Regions from separate parts of the Homo sapiens genome. Here region 2 is linked to region 1. The links come from fine-mapping of genetic effects on gene expression. A gene starts in region 1. The other region holds a variant in brackets. All regions are shown on one strand. Distances are from middle to middle. Region 1 holds the start of RDH11 (retinol dehydrogenase 11). Region 2 overlaps ZFYVE26 (zinc finger FYVE-type containing 26).

Region 1 (3,033 bases):
TTTTCCAGAAAAATCCCTCTGGGGTATGAGCACTATTTTCAGTTCTGGTTCAACTTTTCATTGAGATTCTATGTGGATAAGAGGATCTTGTAGTGAAAAAAAGATAAAAAGCAGTGTTTTCATCTGAGTGTGAGAAACCATGTGTGCCTAGAGGTGGGAGAACTGAGTGTTCAGAAGGCAGAAAAAATATAACTGGAAGAGGGGCACCAGAGAAGGAAGAGAAAATAAAAATAAAAGAAGGAAAGTAGGTGACTGTGGTAAGAAATGACTGTGATCTGGCCTGGCTTCAAGTTCTATTGGGACTAAGACCGCCCACCTGGGGAAGGAGTGTGTCTGTCTATTCAGTCACTGGTCCGTCACCACTGGTGATTTACTTAGAACCAATAAGCAGGCTGCCGGTTTTACAGCCCGCTGCTGATTCACTGGGGCACTTGGCCAGCCTTGGGCTGATTGATCTATCACCTGGTCAATACCTTCCCACCATTCTCCCAGCCCTCACCGCCCCAGTACCCTAGCTCCTAACTCAGATCCCCCGTGCTCCTGCTCGCAAGGCAGGATAGAGCTCATAACCAAACACTCTTCCTTTTCACTTTTCTCCTTTACAACATCCGCCCACAGAACAAGCGATTGTAACAGCAACGAGAGAGCAAGGATGGGGCCGCAGATGTTACGATTGCTATCAGTTTCAGAGGGCGAAATGTGGAATCGCTCCTTTGTACCTCGAAGGCTGGTTTAAGGCGTGGGGAATAAGGGGAAAACAGCGTCGGGCCATATCCCATTGAAGAGTCCGAAACTCAAGCGTTTGAGGTAGCCTTACCCTCGGGATTCCCTGGAGCCAGAATCAGGGGGTGCTTAGACAAAAGAAAAACAGGCCAGGGAAAAGCAGTGTGCCCCGGACTGCCGCCCTTTCTCACCGCCTGGGGTCTCGGGTGTCCTCCTGGCACCCAGGACAGCTGGACCTCGCCTCCAACCCACCGAACTCTGGGCTCCGCCATCTTGGAGCCCCCCCAGGGGAGTTTTCCAAGAAAGCTTTGGTGGGGATTCTATGTTTCCCTCCCGCCCCGCAACAAGAATTCTCAAGAGAAGGCAATACATTTGCACAGACCTGATTTGGGGCGCAGCCATATACAGAAGGAAGGGCAGAAGGAGGAGCAACAGCGGGAACATGAGCTCAACCATCTCTGCCGGCTGCAGCGGCACCAGAGCGGGATGCTCCAGCGTTGCTCGCCGACTATGGCTTCTCTTTCTAGACACGCCCCAATTCAAATTGCGACAGCCCGGGGAGCAGACCTTCTGGGAAATGTAGTCCAGAGCTTGACAGCCTCAGGCTGGCTACGTGGGAGCGCTGCCGCCAACGCTGGCAGAAGTTGAATTATACATCGCTAATCCCCAACCATCTAGGGCTTAGGGCCTGTGGGATCATTCACCCAGCTCTCAGTTATTTTTTCTGCCTTCTGAATACTCAGTTCTCCCACCTCTAGGCACACATGGTTTCTCACACTCAGATGAAAACACTGCTTTTTATCTTTTTTTCACTACAAGATCCTCTTATCCACATAGAATCTCAATGAAAAGTTGAACCAGAACTGAAAATAGTGCTCATACCCCAGAGGGATTTTTCTGGAAAAAAAAAAGTATACACTATAGGAATAGTACACTTATTCCTATAGTGTACTAGGCACCGCGGTGTTTGTGAAATCTCTGCAGTCCTCTATCTCCCCAGACCCAAGTCCAGTGCCTGGTTCAGTTTTCCCCAATCCTGGTTAGGCAGTTACCGCACTGTTTCTCCTGGAGATCAGATGTTGGCGTCTGGGAAATGAAAGGCGGATTAGACAGGAGAGGAGCGGTCCGAAGTCTGACAGTTGGGAAGGTGGGGGAATGTAAACCCTTCCTCCTCGAGGATTCCTTTTTCCAGAGAAGAGGAAGCAATAAGTCCTTGAAGACATTCTCAGGAGAATCACTTTATTGTGTCTATCTTGAATTATGGTGGCAACTATCATGATTTTTCTAGTGTTTGAGTGTTCATTGATAATAGAATATCGTCTTCCTGATGGCTTGGGTCACATACATTAACTCCCAGGGTAGCAATGAATATCTCAGATTGGCACAGTTGGTTTTGCCAACTCGTGAAAGTATTTAATCCTGTCTTGAATTAAGGCCATGAATATGTTCTCTGTGAATAAATAGGTTCCCTGTTCAATAGTTTCTTTCATCTGAGGCCTATTTCCTGGGGGTGAAAGTGGAGGGTGTTTTAACCAATCAATATCTGTCTGTGATTCCTTAATTGTACCCAGTAATATTTTCTGGTCCTTTTGCATAATTTCCATTTGGTTAAAAGACACGGGTTCCAATGAACTAATATATTTTATAGCAAATTGGAGAAGAGAGGGTTTCCTTCACACAATACTAATTCCTACCAATTTAACATTAGATTACCTAGCAATCATCACATTTTGTCACATTCTCATTATTGTGTTACCTAATATTTGTATTGGGTTTTATAACTTTATAAAAGCCTTTCATTTGTTTTGTTCCTTATTCAGTCATTCACGCATTTGACAAACATTTATGGCATTCCTATAGTGTACTAGGCACTGTGCTGATGTCCAGCAGGAAGCCAGGAACACATAATCTCTGCTCGCCCGGAGTTCATGGACTGTCAGAGAAGACCTTAAATAAGTAATCACTGTAAATAAATCATGGTGAAGGTTATGAGGAGGATTAGAGAAAGCTCTGGGAGCTTTTACAAGGGAGAGGAGTTCTAGATCAGGAGAGGCTTATTTGAGGAAATAACATTTGAGCGGAGGCCAGAGGGAAGTTAGTAGGCAAGCAACATAGACAAGAGTGTGCTGAGCAGAGGAAAGACCCCACCTGAGGGTTCACAGTCAGAGAAAGCAGGGTGCACTAGAGCAACAGAAAACCGTCTAGGGAGAAGGGAGAGTGCCAGAAATGGCAATAATAGCCAGTGCTTAAATACTGCTTAATTATGGCCAGGCCCTGTCCCAATGATTTATATATATATATTAACTCTTA
Region 2 (2,500 bases), 76 kb after region 1:
ATTCAGAATGTCTCATCAGTCTTCTCCAAATTATATACCTTCTCTATACATCCATATTCTGATGTGTGTAATATAGTAATAATATTACCAAGCTCATCAGGTTATTGTAAAATTTAAGAGAGATAACTTAAGCAAAGCACTTAGTATCATGCCTGGAACATATACAGTAGGCAGTCAATAAAGGCCAACTGTTGTCATTATTAGAATTTAAAGATTAGAAACTCTTTCTATAATCTACCCTATATGTAAGTAAACCTTCTATATGGTGGTTTCAAAGCTAGAGAGCAGCTTGTCATGCAAAACTCCTTTTGGTGGCTTGTCATATGTCTCAACAAGCCACAACCAATTGTCCTCCTTGAAGATTTGTAAGTTTAAATAAGGAAAATACCTGACTCTGCTTTCCTAATATCTTTTTTTTTTTTTAAATCAACTTTTATTTTAGGTTCAGGGGCACATGTGCAGGTTTGTTACATAGGTAAACTCGTGACTCAGGGGTTTAGTGTACAGATTATTTTGTCACCTGGGTAGTAAGCATGGTACCTAGCAGTTTTTCTTCCCTGAACTTCTCCCTCCTTCCACCCTCCTCTGTCTCAAGTACACTCCGTGTCTGTTGTTCCCCTTTTTCTGTCCATGTGTTCTCAGTATTTAGCTCTCACTTAAAATTGAGAACATGTGGTATTTGGTTTTCCATTCCTGTGTTAGTTTGCTTTGGATAATGACCTCTGGTTCCATCCATGTTCCTGCAAAAGATATGATCTTGTTCTTTTTTATGGCTGCATGGTATTCCATGGTGTATATGTACCACTTTTCTTTATCCAGTCTACAGTGGATGGGCATCAAAGTGACTTTAAAGTACTGCTTCATTTCATTCTAATAGAAATATTACACCTCTTTTATAGATGAGGAGGAAACAGACACAGAGCAATTACATCACCATCGTTTTCATCAGCGTTGAGCTGATGTGGCATACTGGGCAGGTACTGCGTTAAGTATGGTGACACATATTATCATATTTAATCCTAACAGCTCCATGAGCCTAAGAATATATCATCCTTAGTTTACAAGTAGGCACATGAGACCAAAATAGTGTATAGTCACACTGTCATTAAGAGGCAGAGCCAGGATTAGAACCCAGGCCCTCTGTCTCCTGAGTCAGTGCATATAACCACTGCTGGGTCACCAGTCTT[A/C]CTGTCAAAGACATGGGAGCCAGAAACAAGATCCACTGACACCTGTTGACTCCTCCTGCCTCTTTTTTATTATCTCATGACAATGGCAAAGATTTTAGAATTTATGGCTGTTTGAGGGTGTCTACTACCTGTCTGAATCCAGAAAATACATTCTGGTCAGGTCAAAAATGAACCCAAAGTCTTAGATTTGGCAGTTCTGAAAATACCGATATTCTCCTGGGGACAGGCGGTGATTGTAAACTCAGGCTCATGAACTAGAATTCTCCTTTACCTTCTCCTGAGGGTGACAGTGGAGACCGATGCTGCTTACCATGGTGAAGTGCTCCCTGCAGCAGACCATGCAGATACTCTCAGTCTCATCCGGTACCCACTGGTGCCTGGCAGGGGGTGTCGCTGGGGGCACAAATTCCTGTGAGGGCTGGGTTGGTGGGAAACTCCTTTCCCTTAGACTAGGGGAATGTATACTGGAGATACCTGGGAGGCAGAGCCAGAGGTCAGAGTAAAAGGTAATCAATATACCAGCTTATAGATGAAGAGGGAATGATAGAATTTTACCATTTTACAAACCGTTATTGAAAGAATAGATCCAGTTAATGATCATCAGTGACTGTTTGTGTCATAAAAGAGAGACAACTGAACATTGTGTGCCTCCTGATGGATGTGTACACCACCTGCTATCAAGTATACTTACTAAAAAATATTAAGCCTGAATCAAGTCCAGCTTCTAGACCTAACTACAAGTGTCCTGGAAATTCTGGGGATGAAGACGCAGATTGCCACAGGAAGGCAGTCAGCAAAATCCAGCATGTGGGAAGCTCCGGGGAACAAATGACTAGACTCCTCCACAAATAAAAAAGAGGTAGGGGGGATAAACAAGAAAAGAGGCAGGGAACCTATTGATTAAAGGCGCTTTAAGAGGCTGGTGCAGTGGCTCATGCCAGTAATCCCAGCACTTTGGGAGGGTGAGGCAGGAGAATCACTTGAGGCCAGGAGTTCAAAACCAGCCTGGGCAACTAGGCTGTCTCCATAGATGGATAGCAAGACTCCATCTATACAAAAGAAAAAAATACAGAAGTTAGCCAGACATGGTGGTGTGTGCATGTAGTCCCAGCTACTAGGGAGGCTGAGGTGGGAGGATTGCTTGAGCCCAGGAGTTCAAGGTTATAGTAGCCATGATCATACTACTGCACTCTGGCCTGGATGACAGAGGGAGACTCTCTTAAAAAAGAAAAAGAAAAAAAGATTTAAGAGATATTTCACCAAATGCCATGCCATGTATGGACATTATTTAGATCTTGAGTCTGGAAAAAACA

The links.
Region 2: its variant is fine-mapped to the expression of RDH11 in whole blood (TOPMed, PIP 0.93).

The regions. Positions count from the first base shown.
Region 1 is chr14:67,694,525-67,697,557 of GRCh38, forward strand. It overlaps RDH11 (retinol dehydrogenase 11), which reads right to left and starts at 1,240. Exons shown (of 7, transcript NM_016026.4): 1 at 1,106-1,240. The coding sequence starts at 1,179. It also overlaps a transcript of GPHN not described here. RefSeq lists a silencer at 348-407 and enhancers at 757-1,393, 1,438-1,487, 1,508-1,557.
Region 2 is chr14:67,770,550-67,773,049 of GRCh38, forward strand. It overlaps ZFYVE26 (zinc finger FYVE-type containing 26), which reads right to left. Exons shown (of 42, transcript NM_015346.4): 28 at 1,498-1,661. Among named protein-coding and RNA genes, the nearest start is that of ZFYVE26, 45 kb to the right of the region's middle. The variant A/C (reference allele first, on the strand shown) is at 1,188.